Linked DNA regions of Homo sapiens: region 2 is linked to region 1. A link means that fine-mapping ties the variant in region 1 to the expression of a gene that starts in the linked region. Tissue or cell type: stomach. Region 1 holds a variant in brackets; the other region holds the start of a gene. All regions are shown on one strand. Distances are between the middles of the regions. Region 1 holds the start of LOC124901461 (a long non-coding RNA gene). Region 2 holds the start of RNASET2 (ribonuclease T2).

Region 1 (9,171 bases):
CGGCGTTCTCCCCGCTGTGTGCGTTCACCCCGCGTTCTCCCAGCTCTGTGAGTTCACCCAACTTTCTCCTTACTTTGTGCATTCACCCGGCATTCTCCCGACTGTGTGCGTTCACCCGGCGTTCTCCTCTCTGTGTGCGTTCTCCTGGCGTTCTCCCACCTGTGTGCGTTCACCCGGCGTTCTCCCCTCCATGTGCGTTCACCTGGCGTTCTCCCCTCTGTGTGTTCACATGGCGTTCTCCCCGTTGTGTGTGTTCCCGTGGCATTGTTCCTGTGTGTGTTCACCTGGCATTCTGCCCCAAGTGTGTTCAAATTTCTCTGTTCTCATTAGGACACCAATCATTGGCTTAGGGCCCACCCATGTGCAGTATTCCTTTATCTTGCTAAATCTGAAAGATCCTATTTCCAAATAAGGTAACATGTACAGGTAGGGCGTGGTCCTGAGTTTGGGTGTTAGAGCACTTACTCAATGCCAGTGTTTGTCGTTCCTGTCTGTGTTTGGGGGTATCTGAGTGCTCACATCACATTTTATCTCCTACCAGTGAGCCTCACAAGCCCAAGGCTTTAAAAAGACAGAGGCATATTGCCCTAACGATGCTTTAACTCTGCTTCAATTGCCCATTTTTTCCCTCCAAGCAGAGGCCATCCTTTTAGAAGTAAATGAGCGATAATGATGCAAATGGAAGAATGTTGTCGATATTGTGTTTTCTTTTCTTACACAGCAGGTAGACCTTCAGCAGACACTTTTTTATTTTATTTATTTATTTATTTTGCAGTTGCAAGATCTAATAGTGAAAACAGAGCTCCCATACAAAGGGAGGGGACCCAAAGAGGGTAGCATTTGCTAGCTCAAATGCCTGGGTTCATGTCCTGATCATTGTCCCTCCTGCTGTGCTCTCAGGCAATAGATGATTGGCTATTTCTTTACCTCATGTTGTTGCATAATTAGCATTTTAGTGAGCTCTCTTTACTATCTGATTGGTCGGATGTGAGCTAAGTTGCAGGCCCCGTGTTTAAAGGTGGAAGCCATCACCTTCCCAGCTAGGCTTAGGGATTCTTAGTCAGCCTAGAAAATCCAGCTAGTCCTGTCTCTCAGTACCCCCTCTCAACAGGAAAACCCAAGTGCTGCTGGGGAGGTTGGCCGACAACCGCTCTAACTGCTTCCTGCTGAATTGGGGCATAGTAGGGATGGTGCAGTTGAGATTTCCTCGGGAGGGGTGCCTTCAATGTCATTAACATCAGAGCATGGGCTAGCAGGCCGGTCCAGGGGTCCACGGTAGATCTTAGTCATGGACTGCATCTGGGGCACCATTTGAAGAACGATTTGTAGTTTTACAGCTTTGATTCTGGAAGAGACAAACTTAACAAGGAGGTTAAAGATACAGGGATTGAAATGAATGGCCTGCAGTGCAGGGGATTATTTCTTTGGCACAGTTTACAGGCCTTGACTATCTGCTTGATAGTTTTGACAAGGCCTGGTCCAGTAAATAATGATTTGGCCACCTGATGGGTGCTATTAATGCCTAAGTGAAAGGTTTGGTGAAGGGTTTTAAGTAATTTCATTGGTTAGCTGCAGGCAAAAGTATTTTTCCTTCTTCGGTGGCTAGCCATGCTGAGGGGAGGAAACTATGTCCTCGTGAGGCTCCCCATTCTATTTCTTCTTCTGAGTACTGGGGCTTGGTTTCCTGGAGTGGATTACCCCATACTAGGGGTCCTTCTATAAGCATTTCTAATGGAGTGTCCGGCCTTGTGGCTCTTTTGGCTTTAATATCCGCTTGGTGGTTCCCTTCTATTTCCTTTTCCTTTCCTTTCTGATGACCCCAGCAGTGTAAGACTGCCACCTCTTTAGGTTTCTATACAGCCAATAATAATCTCCTAATGGCTTCCTGATGTTTGAAAGGTGTTTCCTCGGAAGTTAGGAATTCCCTTTCTTTCCATAGTGCTGTGTGGGCATGGAGGACTAGGTAAGCATACTTAGAGTCTGTATATATATTTACCCTTTTTCCTTCTCCCAATTCTAGTGCCCGAGTGAGGGCTATTAGTTCTGCCAGCTGAGCACTAGTTCCTGGAGTGAGGGGATTACTTTCAAGTATTCTGTTATCACTGACCACCGCATAGCCCACTTTTCGAAGTCCTTTTTCTACAAGGGAACTTCCATCAGTATACAAGTTGAGGTTGGGATCAGTCAAGGGAACCTCTAAAAGGTCCCCTCGAGCAGCACAGGTTTGAGGAATTACTTGTTGACAGTTATGTTCTATCTTTTCTTCATTGTCTGGAAGAAATGTGGCTGGGTTAACAGTACTGGCCCTTCAAGTAATAGAGCCTGATAGTTAAGTAAACAGTTGTCTGACAGCCACAAGTCTTCTTTAGCAGTGAGTATGTCATTCACGTCATGAGATGTCCATACAGTAAGATCTCTTCCCTGTATTATTTTAACTGCTTCAGACACTAATACTGCTACTGCCGCCACTACCCATAAACAATGAGGCCAACCCTTTGCCACTACATCAATTTCCTTATTCAGGTATGCCATGGGTTGCAAGCTCATCCCTCGGACCTGTGTAAGGACTCCTAGAGCGATTCCTGTTTTTTCTGTGGCATATAAAGAAAAATCTTGCCCTGTTGGCAAGCTGAACACTGGGGCTTGGGTTAGGGCCTTCTTTAGGGCCTGGAAAGCCACTTCTGTTTAGGTGTCCATCTTACTAAATAGGTATTGGCTTTCTGAGTTTCCTTAATTAGTGTATATAATGGTCTGGCTATTTTGCTGTACCTGGGAATCTGTTTTCGGCAGAAACCTGTTATGCCAAGGAACCCTCTTAGTTGCTTTAGGGTTTTGGGATGAGGATAAGCCAGTATAGGCTGGATACGTTCCTCACTGAGGGCCCTGGTGCCTTTGGATAATTTTAGCCCTCAGTATCTAATCTGCTGTGAGCAGAGCCGAGCCTTTGGTTTGGAAACCTTGTAGCCACAGGTAGTGAGGAAATTTAAGAGTTCTTGGGTGGCTTGATGGCACAAGGTTTCTGAACGGGCGACTAAAAGTAAATCATCCATGTACTGAAGGACAAGAGTGTCCAGGTATGAGAATTGGCTCAAGTCTTGGGCTAATGCCTGGCCAAATAGATGGGGGCTATCCCTGAACCCTTGGGGTAAAACAGTCCAGGTGAGTTGACAGGTTGTGTTTGAAGGATCTTCAAAGGCAAACAAGAATTGAGAGTCAGGATGTACAGGGATGCAGAAAAAGGCATTCTTAAGGTCCAGGACTGTAAACCACTCTGCTTCCTCTGGTATTTGGGAAAGCAGAGTATAAGGGTTAGGTACAGCTGGGTATAGAGGGACAATGGCCTCATTGATAATCCTGAGCTCTTGTGCAAACCTCCACTGTCTGTTGGGTTTCTCTACTCCTAAAATTGGAGTATTGCAGGGGCTATTGCATGGTTTTACTAGGCCTTGGGCTTTTAGGTCCTTAACAATCTTTTGGAGTCCTTGTTGGGCCTCAGGTCTAAGGGAGTACTGCCTTTGGTAGGGAAAGGAGGCGGAATCCTTTAGTTTAACTAGAACAGGATGGGCATTCTTTGCTCGTCCATATTGTCCTTCTGTTGCCCAGACTTCAGGATTAATTCCTTCCTCAAGCAGGGACAACAAATGGGTGTTCCTTCTCCTATGTTCAGGTGTATAATGGCCCCTGCTTTTGCTAGAATGTCTTTCCCTAACAAGGGAGTGGAGCTTTCAGGCATAATTGGAAAAGCATGAGAAAAGAGTAAAGTTCCCCAGGCACAACTTAGTGGCTGGGAGAAGTATCTAATGACTGGCTGTCCTAGGACCCCTCGGAGAGTGACAGATCTGGAGGACAGTTGTCCGGGACAGGAGAGTAAGACTGAGAAGGCCGCGCCAGTGTCCAGGAGACAGTTAACCTCCTGGCCCTCAATGGTCAAGCATACCCGAGGCTCTGTGAGGGTAATGGCATGGGCTGGTGCTTGCCCCGGTACCCTCAGTCCTGCTGCTGGATCATCTGGTTAGTGGCTTCTGACTCAGAGGACCTTCATCCCCTGGGGCAGTGGGCCTTCTAGTGATTCCCTTGACATAATGGTGGACGAGGAGGCAGCTTATTTCTACTTGGATGATCTTTTTTAACGTGTGCTTGTAGACCGCACTGGAAGCAAGCCCTGTTAGGCATTCGATTTTCCCAGCTTTTCCTTTTCCAGAGCCTCCAAAGTCCACTTGCCTGAGGGCCATGACTAAAGCAGTGGCCTTTTTAAATCCCGTTTGTCCTGTTCCGCCTGCTCCTCCTGATCTCTATTATAAAAAACCAAGGTTGCCAAGTTCAATAGGGTTTCTAAGTTTTGCTCTGGGCCTAAGGCGGACTTTTGAAGTTTTTTTCTAATGTCTGCAGCTGACTGAGTGATAAACTTATC[C/T]TTTAAGATTAGTTGGCCTTCAATAGAGTCAGGTGACAGAGAGGTATGCTTCCTCAATGCCTCCCTTAGTCTCTCCAGAAAAGCAGTAGGATTTTCTTCCTTTCCCTGTGTTATAGTGGACATCATTGAAAAATTTGTAGGCTTCTTCCTGGTTTTCCTTAGTCCTTCCAGCACACAAGTTAGCAAATGTCTGCAGCACCAATCTCCATGTTCTGATTCTGCGTCCCAGTGAGGGTCTACACTGGGAACTGCCTGCTGGCCTGTGGGGAATCATTCTCTTTCCTCTGTTATCATCCTATCATTGACCTGACTGAGATACCAGAGATCGCCAAACTCTCAGGCTGCAGTTATGGTGGCACTTCTCTCATTTGGGGTTAACGTCTGATTTAGCAGTAACATTATATCTCTCCATATCAGATCGAAGGATTGTCCTAACCCCTGTAAAACATCAATATAGCCATCAGGGTTATCTGAGGATTTACCTAGGTCTATTTTAATTTGCTTTAAGTCCGAGAGAGAAAAAGGTACATGCACTCTGGCTGGGATGAATTCTCCTCCTCTCACTGCTTGGAGGGGGCATAATCGGGGAATATTGGCACCTTTGATTCATTGTTTACCCCTTTGTCTATCTCCTTTTGGACCGTTTGGGTTCAAGGGGGGTCCTTATTAGTTGGGGGAGGAGTTGGGGGGATGGTGGGGTAGGGAGGTAGACTCTGAAGGCTTCTTGTAGGGCATAAATCACACTTTTTACATAATTGCGAGTTGTCTCTTAATGAAAAGAAAGTTTGTACATATGGCACTTCACTCCAGTTGCCTTCTTTTTTACAAAAGAGTTCTAGCTGTAAGATGGTGTTATAATTTATACTTCCCTCCAGAGGCCAGGTTTCTCCCCCTTGAAGAGGATATCGTGGCCAGGCGGTACTGCAGAAGAAAATGAGTCATTTCTTTCTTAGCATCTGAGGGTCAAATTGGTCCCAATTCTCCAGAATACATCTTAGGGGCATTTTTGCCTTGGGCGGAACATTTCCTATCTGAAAAAAGAACTGAGGGATGCCAGCACCCCTAGTCATTTTCCGATGTGCATTAATCTTAGAGTGTCCGCTGTGGTCCTAATGCTTATTCCTTTCCAGGGTGCGTAACCACCCATGGACCTCGGCTTATCGGATTAGTTATGCTCACCGAAGTAGCAGTCTTGCACCCTTTTCCTGCCTTTCTTGACCACAAAGAAAGGGGTCCAGGCTGCTGGATTCTAGTGGTCCTTTACCAGCGTACCCAACATTGCCTTTGTGCTCAGGGGTGAGTCCTAGAGCTGGGCTGGGTTCCTGAGTATTTCATAACAACCCAGCTTCCCCATCAAGATGCATTCCCATAAACAACAGTTCTTATGCAAATTCATTTCAGAGAGGGTGTAGGTAACCTTTTGAGTCAGGATTGAGATAGTCTTTTTTGATTCTGTGAGTACTTTAAGGCTTGGCTGAGTGCAAACGGCTCGCACGTTTGAGGAGACCAATTATTAAGCAATTTTTCTAACTCTGCTTCCACAAGAGTCTCCCTACCAATTACTGAATGCCCATTGTGGTTTTTTCCTCAGTCACCAGGGAAGAACCATCTACTGTCCTGTCCTGAAGGGAGTTCCTCCTAGATCTGGTCGGACCTTTGTATGGTAATTAAGATTTAAATCCTTTGTTGGGAAATCTGCTGGGTTAATGGGATTATCAGTGGTTGGTGTTAAATTACCTTTTTCTAACAGAAAAGCCGCATGCTTTAAGATTTTTGAGTTAGTAAGCTACCTTTTTGCTTTTTTGACTTAGAATAATTCTGAACTGATTAGGTGTGCTCACAATGAGGTTTCCTCTAAACGTCACTTTTCTACTTTCTTCTGTTAGCAAAGCAGTTGCTGCTACAGACTGTATGCATTTGGGCCATCTGCGGGTCACTGAGTTGAGGAATTTTGATGGGAAGGCTCCTGGTTGTTAGCGGTCTCAGTGTTTTCAGGCTACGCCCTTGTTTACACTAACAACAAGGTAGTATTGGAGTGTTATAGGGTCATGGAGAAGACCTTCAATTATCAATTACAGGTTTTAAATTTACCCTGGCTTTTAAAGGAATAGGGCACACTGTTTTTTACTATTTCTATCTTTCTCTGTTTTTTTCTCTTTGACTCCCTCTTTCTCTCTCTCTCTCCTCCATCTCTCTCTCTCTCTCCCTCCTCTGTCTCTCTCTCTCCTCCATCTCTCGCCTTCTCTTAGCCATTACAAATTTGGGGCCCTGGCAAGGGTGGTGGGGAACGGGTCCAACATAACTGCCCATGTCGAGAGCTGTATACTTAAATCGGGTGGGACACCAGGGATAACACTTCCTGGGTTTGTAGCCTAGATGCCTAAGAACACAGCGTAGAGCTTCCTTAGATCCCTTTGGAGTTACAACTTGCCAGAGGAAATGAAAGTCTGAACCATTAGTACCTAGGAGGCAGGGATCAGAGGAAGAAGATTCAGAGGTAAGGAGAATTTTGGGGCTACACTTTCAAGAACGTCGTGGTTGGGACCCAGGATGTATGGGTCAGAAGGAAAGGTAGGGGTGCATGCATGGGCAACTGTTGAGGAGAGACTTCTGGCTGCACCATGATCTCAACTGGCTAATGCCGGGAGTTCGGGATGACAGCTTTCTGCCTCTAGTTGGCCCCTGGCTTCCCCAAGAAAATTGAAAGTGGAAGCTGGCTCCAGGCAGACCAATGTCCCCAACCCAGAAGGGTTGGGGGTTGTTAGAAAGCCCTTCCCCAGATAGCCTCACACCTGAGTCCTAAGTCTGGACATAGGCATGGCATGTCCTATGTCCTAGGCTATATGCCTAGGACATAGGCATATAGCATGGTTAAAAAGCCATGCTAATGGTTTTTAACTGGCCGACAGGTGCCCGGTATTTTCCTCCAATTCTAAGGAAGGATAGGACAGAATAGCAAGTGAAAGTGGTCCAGTATTACCACTTTGGAGGTCCCTTCATGGTCACCAAAATGTTACCAGGGGGTCCTTGCTCACAGAGCTCCCAAGGTGGTGGCTGGCTGCTTCCAAAATGGCGGTGGGCTGCTTCCAAGATGGTTGCAAGCCTCGTGTTCTCTGACCTGGGGTTCTTGGTCTCACGGATTCCAAGGAATGGAATCTTGGGCCATGTGGTGAGTGTTATAGCTCTATTAGAAGCCGTGGGTCACAGAAGAGAACTGTGGAACCCAGTGACTAGTGTTCAGCTTGATTAGGACGAACCCGGACACTTAGCAGTGCAGGAACAATGGCAAGCCTTTTTAGCCTGATCAGGAGCGGCAATGGGCACCTCGCTGGATCAGGAGCACAGCGGACACCCTGCAGGATCCGGAGGGATGGAAGTCAGCGGCGGGTCTGCGACAGCAGTAGTGGACAGCGAGTGAAAGCTCAGCTCAAGCCGACACAAACATAGACCAGAAGAGAGTGCAGTTGCAAGATTTAATACAGTGAAAACAGAGCTCCCATACAAAGGGAGGGGACTCAAAGAGGGTAGCCCTTTTTTTTTTATTTTTAATTTTAGGACTAATTCTTTTCCTGGAGGGTGTTTGTTGGCAAGTAGAACATAGGGATCTCAGTTAAATTTATTCTTTTTTTTATACTTTAAGTTCTAGGGTACATGTGCACAACGTGCAGGTTTGTTACATATGTATACATGTGCCATGTTGATGTGCTGCACCCATTAACTCGTCATTTACATTAGGTATATCTCCTAATGCTATCCCTCCCCCCTCCCCCCACCCCACGACAGGCCCTGGTGTGTGATGTTCCCCACTGTGTGTCCAAATGTTCTCATTACTCCATTCCCACCTATGAGTGAGAACATGCGGTGTTTGGTTTTCTGTCCTTGTGATAGTTTGCTCAGAATGATGGTTTCCAGCTTCATCCATGTCCCTCAGAGGACATGAACTCATCCTTTTTTATGGCTGCATAGTATTCCATGGTGTATATGTGCCACATTTTCTTAATCCAGTCTGTCATTGATGGGCATTTGGGTTGGTTCCAAGTCTTTGCTATTGTGAATAGTGTCGCAATAAACATACGTGTGCATGTGTCTTTATAGCAGCATGCTATATAATCCTTATTATGTATACCCAGTATATAACCAGTGTATACCCAGTAATGGGATGGCTGGGTCAAATGGTATTTCTAGTTCTAGATCCTTGAGGAATCGCCACACTGACTTCCACAATGGTTGAACTAGTTTACAGTCCCACCAACAGTGTAAAAGTGTTCCTATTTCTCCACATCCTCTCCAGCATCTGTTGTTCCCTGACTTTTTAATGATTGCCATTCTAACTGATTTGAGATGGTATCTCATTGTGGTTTTGATTTGCATTTCTCTGATGGCCAGTGATGATGAGCATTTTTTCATGTGTCTGTTGCCTGCATAAATGTCTTCTTTTGAGAAGTGTCTGTTCATATCCTTCGCCCATTTTTTGATGGGATTGTTCGATTTTTTTCTTGTAAATTTGTTTATGTTCTTTGTAGATTCTGGATAATTAGCCCTTTGTCAGATGCGTAGATTGTAAAAATTTTCTCCCATTCTGTAGGTTGCCTATTCACTCTGATGGTAGTTTCTTTTGCTGTGCAGAAGCTCTTTAGTTTAATTAGATCCCATTTGTCAATTCTGGCTTTTGTTGCCATTGCTTTTGGTGTCTTAGTCATGAAGTCCTTGCCCATGCCTATGTCCTGAATGGTATTGCCTAGGTTTTCTTCTAGGGTTTT
Region 2 (9,640 bases), 61 kb before region 1:
CTAAAAACACAAAAATTAGCCGGACGTGGTGGCACACGCCTGTAATCCCAGCTACTCGGGAGGCTAGGGCAGGAGAATTGTTTGAGCCTGGGAGACGGAGGTTGCTGTGAGCCGAGATTGTGCCACTGACTGCACTCCAGCCTGGCTGACAGAGTGAGACTCTGTCTCAAAAAAAAAAAAAGAAAAAGAAAAAGAAGAGAAAGGGCAGGGAAACACCCAGCAGCTGGCCTCACTTTCTCAGCAAATAAGTAATTCAGGATGGAAAGGAGTTTTTAAGGTGAGATTCTTTCAAGTGTGACAAAGCTCTTTAGAGCATGAGAATCCTAAACTGTGTAGTTGTGCCACTGCTCTGCCATTGGAATGGCCAGCACCAGATATGGGCTGTTCCTACCGCCTGGGTTCCAGAGTGAAAAATACCGTGGACCACAGTGGCATCTGACGCATAGCCAGCATGGAATATGGGCAAATGAATGATAAATGATCAACTTCCGTTTAAGTGAGACACTGAGATTTGGGGGCGGTGTATTATTGTAGCATAACCCAGCAAAAGCTGGCATGGAAACAGGAAACCTGGAGCTAATGCCAAGAAGAGGTTGTGTGGTGAAAGTATCTTGGTCTCTTCAGAATTAACAAGGATTTAAGGATGTCTGTTCATAGACATGGCTGTTGCCATCCTGTCCCCCTCCCCTCTCCTAAGGACATGTTTCTATACAAGCCAGCAGCATCTTTTAAACCTCATAGTTTGTACCCTTTTACACTATGTTGTGTGAGTCAATGTAATTCCCACTCTGGCCCCTGCCCACCTGCTTGATGCTGGAGCCCTCTTTGTTTTCGTAAAGCTGGGCGGCTTCCAGACCCAAATCCAGCCTTTACAGCCACTGCCTCTTCCCTACGTAGGGTTCCGTTTAGGATCCTGGTAGGTGGACAAGTAGTGAACAAGACAGATGACAGATGCTCCAGGTTCACATCCAAGTTTTGGGGGGTTGAGAGCTTTTCCATTTGGATGTCCTTCTTTAAGAACAAGAAGGTAAAATTGTGAATACGGAATGAGATATGGGGTCTTGGTGGGGCCCATGCCAGCAAGGGGCCTGAAGCTCCTCATTAGCTTCCGATGTGGGGGTGGGGGAGTAGAAGTGGGCAGTACAGGAGGAAGTGACAAGAATTCTCAGGGGTGGGGAGAACTGTGTCGAAAATAAACAAGGAAGTGCAACAGGAAATGACTGGGTGGCTTCTTCAGGCTGGGTAGGACGCTGCTGAATTTATCTGATAAAAATCTCCTCTCTGTGAGTTGTGGAAAGTGGCTTGCTGCGAGAGACCCCCTTCTTCCCCACATAACATAGGTAAGAGTGATAGAAGTGATGCAGCTGGGCGCTGTCTCCAAAAAAAAAAAAAAAAAAAGGAAAAGTGACGGATGCTCCCCTCACTCCACCCCCTACCCATTACCTAGGACAAAGCCAGACACAGATCCTCCAATTCCCATTCTTCACCTCATCAATGATGAGCCAGTCAATAGAAATAACACACTTGTTAAGCAAACTTGGTGAGGCTCCTCTCTTCCCCCGAGGCTGAGGACTTTTGGCCTCATCTTAGCCTGAGTCAGTCCCCCCTGAGAACAGGCTGGCCACGGGGTCAACCTTCTCTGATCTAATGTCCTATGAAGGCAGGTTCTCATCCCACTTCTCCATTCCCAGTTCATTCTTTCTCTCTCTTTCTTTTTCTCTCTTTCTTCTTTCTTTCATTCATTCTTTTTGTTGTTGTTGTTGACCGAGTCTCACTCTGTCGCCCAGGCTGGAGTGCAGTGGCGCGATCTCGGCTCACTGCAACCTCTGCCTCCTGGGTTCAAGCGATTCTCCTGCCTCAGCCTCCAGAGTAGCTGGGATTGAGGGAAGAGAGAGACCCTCTCATATTGTTTTATATTGTTTTATACTCAGTACCTGTTTTAAGAAAAAAACAAGGAAGTGAAATCAAAGACAGGCAGCCCGGCGCCAGGCCCAAAACCGGACCTGGGCCTGCCTGGCCTAAACCTAGTAGTTAAAAATCAACTCATGACTTAGAGACCGATGTTATTCATAGATTCCAGACATTGTATAGAAGAACATTGTGAAACTCCCTGCCCTGTTCTGTTTCTCTCTGACCACCAGTGCATGCAGCCCGTCACGTACCCCTTGCTTGCTCAAATCAATCACGACCCTTTCATGTGAAATCTTTAATGTTGTGAGCCCTTAAAAGGGACAGAAATTGTGCATTCGGGGAGCTCGGATTTTAAGGCAGTAGCTTGCCGATGCTCCCAGCTGAATAAAGCCCTTCCTTCTATAGCTCGGTGTCTGAGAGGTTTTGTCTGCCGCTCCTCCTGCCACAGGATTACAGTCGCGTGCCACCCCCGCCCAGCAAATTTTTGTATTTTTAGTAGGGACAAAAGGCCCCCAGGCCCCTGCAATAATGGTCCTCATAACACCACTCCTCCCCGAGTCCAGATTTGCTTTATATTTGGCAGTGGTCACAACAGCCCTCCTTGACAAGGGGCTGTTTAAACACACCGGACTGTGATTTAAAGGAAAATGAGGATTCTGGGAAGCACTTTTGTTTTAAGAAAATTATTTTTTTAGCTTAAAAGAAAAGAGAAAAAGAACTGTGGCGTGTGCCTATATTCTTGAGAGGAAGGAATGAAAGGAGCCGGAAAGAAACAAATAAGTCGTTAGGGAAAAGGAGAACGAGAATAACACCATGACCTGTAGGAGGTCCTGGAGGAGCTAAGGAGGTGTCAGCCATTTTCCCCCCCCATCTGTTCCACAGGTGGCATTTTATTGAGCACCGACTGTCCCCCATCCACTGTGCTCAGTGGCAGGGACTCAAGGTGGGCAAAATAGACATGGGCCTTGCCTTGCAGTCTAGTGGGAAAAACAGATTAATCATTTAAATATTTTGTTTCAAAGAATGGTAATGCATGCAGGCAAGGTCCAGGCCTGTGGGAGAGCAGGCTACAGGCCCACCTGCTATTTAGACAGTTACCAGTGGCAGAGGACCCCGAGGAAGGCGCAGTTTACTCGACGTGTAAATAGGAATAGCCTTAACTAGCTGTGGGTGTGCGGACAGGGAAGGGAAAGAGGAGAAACATCTGCAGAGACAATGCCGGGTGCACAGCCCGTGGGCGGGGCCGCGGGTGCAGGGGAACCCGTGCCTCTGAAGGGCTGGGAAGGCCAGGGTGTTGGGGGAGGAGACCGGGCCTATGGGACTGGCCCTGGCTACGCCAAGGTGGGGCTGACATGAAGTCCCCTTCATCCGTGGGGGGTGGCCCGTCCCTCTGGGAGGGGATCCCTCACAAGATGACTTCCCAGGTCGCGCCCCGAGGCGGCTCTTTGCTGCCCCCACAGAGATGACTTCCGGGCTCCTGGGGCCCGCGGGGAGGGGCAGGTGAGGCCCAGGGCTGGGTGAGGGCCAGGCCCTTCTAGGAATGTTGGTGCTCCCAGCACCTAGCACCGGGAGACTGGAGAGGTTTCCAGGAGAGTGACCCGAGTAGGTCCCCTCCTAATTCTGGAGCCGTCCCTCGGGCTGCGCAGTGGAGCGCCGAGGTGGCGGGAGGCTGCGGGGAGCCTGGGCGGCCAAGCACCATCTGCAGTCAGGAGCTCCCGGGCAGCTTGCAGGGCGCAGTTTTTGAAAGCGGGTGCTGCGTGCGGACCGCGGGCCTGCAGGGTGCGCGGGTCGGGCTGGGGGCTGTCCCTGGAGAGTAGAGTGGCCCTGGGGCCCGCACGCCCACTTGCTGGCGGGGGATGGCGCAGACACGGGCGGTCCCCCCGAGGGCGGTCCTCACGGGTGGTCTAGGTTAGCTCGGACCCGGGAGTGTGGGAGTGGCGCAGAGCTGCGGGAAAAGGCGCGGGGCGCCTGCGTGGCGAAGGAACACAGCCGCCTGACACGCCCTCAAGGCCCGCGGAGCTGCTCCTGCCTCGGCCTCTCTGAGCCAACCACGGGGCGGGGCGTGAACGCCGGGCGGGGACGTGCCGTTCTGGGGGGCGTGTCCACCGGCGGGGGCGTGCCGTCCTGGGGGCGTGGCTCTCTGCTCCGGTGCAGGCCCGCAGGGCGCCCTGGGCTGGGAGCAACGCGACTGACCGTGGTCGTGGGCGGACGGCGGCTGCAGCGTGGAGGAGCTGGGGTCGCTGTGGGTCGCGAAGCAGAGCCCGGGACGTGCGCGCTTGGTGCACGATCCTGAAGGGGAGCTCCGAGGGGCCCGGGTCGCCAGGGCTGCTGCGGCCATTCCCGGAGCCCGGCGCGGGGCCCGCGAGATACTGGTTTAGGCCGTCCCAGGGCTCCGGGCGCACCCGGTGGCCGCTGCTGCAGCGGAGGGAGCGCGGCGGCGCGGGGGCTCGGAGACAGCGTTTCTCCCGGAAGTCTTCCTCGGGCAGCAGGTGGGAAGTGGGAGCCGGAGCGGCAGCTGGCAGCGTTCTCTCCGCAGGTCGGCACCATGCGCCCTGCAGCCCTGCGCGGGGCCCTGCTGGGCTGCCTCTGCCTGGCGTTGCTTTGCCTGGGCGGTGCGGACAAGCGCCTGCGGTGAGTTACCTTGCGAGGTAAAGTGGGGAGCGTGGGAGCCGGGCCCTAGAGCTTTCCACTGGGTGAAGGCTGCAGCTCTCGGGGTCGGCGGTCGCTGAGCCCCGGGCAGCGACTGGGGAGGGCGGGGGGAGCCGAGCACGCTCCGGGGTGACCCCTGGGAAGAAGTTGGGAAGTTGAGCACGCCTCGGGGTGACCCCTGGAGGGAGTGGGTTGGGGGGAGCCCTTAGCACACTCAGAAGTGACCTCTGGGAAGGAGTGCGATGAGGGGAGTCCTGAGCACGCCCCGGGGTGACCTCTGGGAAGGAGTGGGTTGGGGGGAGCCCTGGGCACGCTCTGGGGTGACTCCTGGGAAGAAGTGGGTTGGGGAGCCCTGAACACTCCCCGGGGTGACCCCTGGGAAGGAGTAGGGGGTAGGGTGAGGTCCTGGGTACACTCCAGCCTGGAGCTGGACTGGAAACTCATCCCACAGACTGCTCCCAGCCTAGGACGCGACAAAGCAGGTGGCAGGCTTGGTGGAGCACTGTTCCTGCACTCGAAGTTCTCTCAGAGGTCGAAGAAGTCGTGGAGGGGACACTTAATTTCAGCTTTCACTGCGGCGGGTGGTGAAACGACGGTTCTTCCTCTTTTTGAGTATCCTGTTCTGAATCCCTTCCCTTGGCTCGCCCTCCGCGTGTGTGTGTGTGTGCGCGTGTGTGTGTGCGCGTGTGTGTGTGTGCGTGTGCGTTTGTGTGTGCGTGTGTGTGTGCGTGCGTGTGCGTGTGCGTGCGTGCGTGTGTGTGCGTGTGTGTCGTGTGTGCGCGTCTGTGCGTGTGTGTCGTGTGTGCGCGTGTGTGTGTGTGCGTGTGTGCGTGTGTGTGCGTGCGTGCGTGTGTGCGCGTGTGTGCGTGCGTGTGTGCGTGCGTGTGTGCGTGTGTGTGTGTGGCAGCCGCCCAAATTAATTAGGGGTAAACAGGCGGTGCTGCAAAGAACTCCAACTTTAATTCTGTGGAAGATACCAATATTTGAATACCATATTATTTCTTTCTATTTGGGTAATGATCGGGTTAATAGGATTTCTTACTTACATAGTAGGTGTGGAAAAGGTGGGTTTTACTTATTTATTTTTTTTTAGACAGTCTTACTCTGTCACTCAGGCTGGAGTACAGTGGCGTGACCTCAGCTCACTGCAACCTCCACCTCCCGGGTTCAAGCGATTCTCCTGCCTCAGCCTCTGAGTAGGTGGGATTACAGATGCACACCACCACGCCTGGCTAATTTTTGTATTTTTAATAGCCAGGCTGGTCTCGAACTTCTGACCTCAGGTGATCCGCCCGCCTCGGCCTCCCAAAGTGCTGGGATTACAGGCGTGAGCCACTGCACCCGGCCAGGGTTTTACTTTTTAAACACCTTAGGTATATATTTTTAATCATGTACATTAAAATGTAGCATTATATTTCAGTGTTCCGGAAAGTGTATTTTCTGAAAAAGAGCTACATTTATGTCCTTATTTATTGGCCATGAGGTTCAGAGCCTCTCACTGGGGAAGTCTGTGGCATGCTGGCCCTTGCTGGCTGAGTGGAAACTGCTAGTTCACACCCAGGTGTGGGACCTTTGAGCTCTCTATGCCCCAGTTTCCTCATCTGTAAAGTAGAAATAGTAACAGTCAGCCTCACAGAGTTGGCTTCAGGAGAAATCAGTTAAGGTACAGAATGTAACTTGGAATGATGTCTGGCTGGAAGTAAACATTAGCATAAAACAGGCTGTCATATGTGGATCCCCCACCCCAGCCCATAATTCATGCAACTGATATGATCGGACAAACTTGAGCAGGCAAGATTTGCGAGAACATGGTTGATTCAGACCACGAGGGCTTCATAGGTCAGCGGGCATTTTCCCAAGTTCTAACTGGTTTTGAGACCTTGGTGATTTTTCTTTCTTCTTTGACTTTCTTTAGCTTCTCCATTACTTTCTCCGTGAATAGGGGAGGGGGGCATCTGTGTGGGAGGGGGTCTCCTGCAGTCACATCACTCTGCCTGGTTTTAGATGGAGAGTTTGTTACAAACGTCTGAGTCTTGGTAGTTTTGTTGTAAGCATATTGATAGTCTCATCTTCCTGGGTGTTGCTAAGCTTTCCAGCCTCAGGTTCCGACTATGTAAAATAAGGTTTTTCACCCAAGGGTAAAAAATGCTTTACCAGCTCCAATTCTCACCCTGCAGCTCATCCTTTTTTTTTTTTTTTGAGACAGGGTCTGGCTGTGTAGCCCAGGTTGGAGTGCAGTGATGTGATCTGGGCTCACTGCATCTTCCACCTCCTGGGCTTAAGCTATCCTCTTGCCTCAGCGCCTTCCAAGTAGCTGGGACTACAGGTTCATGCCACCACACCTGGCTAATTTTTGTAGAGACAGGGTTTCACCATGTTGCCCAGGCTGGTCTTGAACTCCTGAGCTCAAGCAATCCTCCTGCCTCTGCCTCCCAAAGTGCTGGGATTATAGGTGTGAGCCACCACGCTTGAACCCTTTTTTCCTTTTATACTGAGAGCTTGCATAATTAGTTCCAATGTACAACTAAGTTTTCATACCATCTTAACTGTAAATTCTATACAAATTCAACAGGACTCAATTATTTACAAAAGCTAATGTGTGACAACTTGATCTTCTTACTTGGAATCTTCCCTTCTAAAATTTGATTTATCCTGAAGTGTCTGCTTGACTTATATCCTGTGTTGCTGCTGGCTTTTTCCATGTGCATTTTTTGCAAGCTGCTCTTTTTACTTCAGTCTCGTTAAGTCTTGCAGTTCTGGCTAGAGGCCTACTGCCATGAATAAGCTGCCGCTCCACAGTGGCTTCTTTGAAGTCTTAGAGTCAGATGAGTTTCACGGTGTTCAGGTTTGTGATCCAGTGTGGCCCCAGGTTCTGGGTAACACGTGTGATGCAGTGCTGTGTGCATACCATGTCGTGAATAACATTCATGATGCAGTGCACATACCGTGTTCAAGTTAACAGTCCTGGTGGCATCTGAAGTAGCACCCTAAAATCAAATGACACAAATTCTGCAGAGAAGCAAGTGAAGTCTAAAAACTGAGTTGGGGTAGTAACGATAAATAGCGTTATGCTAGTTCAGGTTATGTTTTGTTGCCAAATGAATTACAAAAAACTACCAGGTTTCAGGCTTTTATGGGTTTCACGAATGCAGGGGAGGGATCGTGGGTCTGCATTTCTCTTGAGCATCCTTAGGAGAAAGGTGCTTCGTGGCTCAGTGGCTTCCCTTCAGTGAGGCCCTCCCTGGCTGCACTCCTAGCTTGCCCTGCCTCCGCTTCCCCTCCTCTCCCCTCCTCCCCTTATCCTATTCATGTTCTCCGCCACTCAGCACTGGACGCCACCACACGTGCCTTCTTAGTGTAGGGGTGTACCGCCTTCCTCACGGGAGTGTGTGCAGCAGCAGGGCAGGCAGTGTTCCTCCTCCCACAGCACTCAGTGCTGAATGAATGATTGAAGGGATGGATGGGTGGATGAATTTTTTCTGTAACTTTAAAAAAAGTTCTTGAAAAATAAGTTTCTTATGTTTTAACAGTGACAACCATGAGTGGAAAAAACTAATTATGGTTCAGCACTGGCCTGAGACAGTATGCGAGGTGAGTGTTTCTGCCTTGACGGGCCCTGGGGCCTGGGGAGCCCTGTGAAGAGGGGTTTGTGTGCACGTGCCCGTCCAGGGCACCCACGCTGCTGGTGCGGGAGGTAGGCATCGCTCTGGCGGGTGGGCGGTGTCTCCTGCAGAGACTGCCTCCAGGAGGGCTGTGTGTGAGCTTCCCAGGGCTGCTGTAACAAAAGTGCCACAAGCTGGGTGGCTGAGAGCCTCAGGAATTTATTCTCACGGTCCTGGAAGGGGAAGTTTCAACCTAGGGGTCAGAAGGGTTGGTTCCTCCTGGAAGGCTCTGAGAGAGTTTGTTCTGTTTCTCTGCTAGCTTCTAGTAAGGACCCGTGGTCCTCTGCGTTCCTGGGCTGACCCATCACCCCAATCTCTGCCTTCTCCTTCACGGTGTGTTCTCCACTTTGTGTCTCTCTGTCTCTTCTGATGAGGACACCAGTAATTGGATTTAGGGCCCACCCTAATCTGGTATCACCTTTTCTTGATGACATCTGCAAAGACCCTGTGTCCATGTAGGGTCATGTTCACAGATGGGAGGAGGGGTTAGGACAGGGATATATCTTCTGGGAGGACACGGTTCAACCCACAGCAAGCCTCAGTTTGTCTCCTCCCTCTGTGGGCGGCAAGCCACCCAGGTGCCAAGGCAAGAGACCGAGGGCATAAGCTGTTCCAGTATAATAAAGAAAATATATAAAATGAGAACAGTTATACTAGAAATAGATTATAGATATGATGATATATGAATATTATTAATCATCAGTTTGTAGCATTGCTCTTTATTCCAATATTATAATAATCCTTGCTCTACAATTACAGCCTAGGAAAAACCAGGCCATACAGAGATAGGAGCTGAAGGGGCACGGTGAGAAGTGACCAGAAGACAAGTGTGAGCCTCTGTCACGCCCGGACAGGGCCACTAGAGGGCTCTTTGGTCTAGTGGTAACACCAGTGCCTGGGAAGGCAACCATTACTTAGCTGACCTCGGTCTAGTGGTAGCGTCAGTGCCTAGGGAAGGCACCCGTTACTCAGCAGACTGGGAAAGGGAGTTAGAGCAGACTCTGCTTCACCATACCTCTTGTGGATAGGCCTCATATCAGTCAGGCCTGCCCACAGCCATCTGGAGGCCTAACCATCTCCCCGTGATGCTGTGCTTCAGCAGTCACACTGCTGTTTCACTTTCATGTTCCACCCAGTACACCTGGCTCTGCCTTCTAGATAGCAGTAGCAGAATTAGTGAAAGTACTAAAAGTCTTTGAAATGCATAGAAGAAATAATGGCGTAAGCTGGCCTCTCTCTCTCTCCGCCTCCGCTGCCATACAGGGAAGGGCCCTCTGTCCAGTGGACACGTGACTCACGTGACCTTATCAGTCATTGGAGATGACTCACACTCCTTACCCTGCCCCTTTTGCCTTGTATCCAATAAACAACAGTGCAGCCAGGCATTCGGGGCCACTACTGGTCTCCGCGTCTTGGTG

The links.
Region 2: it holds the start of RNASET2, and the variant in region 1 is fine-mapped to the expression of RNASET2 in stomach (GTEx, PIP above 0.99).

Annotation. Positions count from the first base shown.
Region 1 is chr6:166,889,853-166,899,023 of GRCh38, reverse strand. LOC124901461 (a long non-coding RNA gene) reads left to right here and starts at 1,952. Exons shown (of 2, transcript XR_007059867.1): 1 at 1,952-6,074. The variant C/T (reference allele first, on the strand shown) is at 4,412.
Region 2 is chr6:166,950,999-166,960,638 of GRCh38, reverse strand. RNASET2 (ribonuclease T2) reads left to right here and starts at 4,089. Exons shown (of 9, transcript NM_003730.6): 1 at 4,089-4,542; 2 at 8,091-8,151. The coding sequence starts at 4,457. RefSeq lists a cis regulatory region at 1,053-1,339, enhancers at 2,020-2,139, 9,039-9,640, 9,198-9,640 and silencers at 3,104-3,153, 3,424-3,523, 3,564-4,323.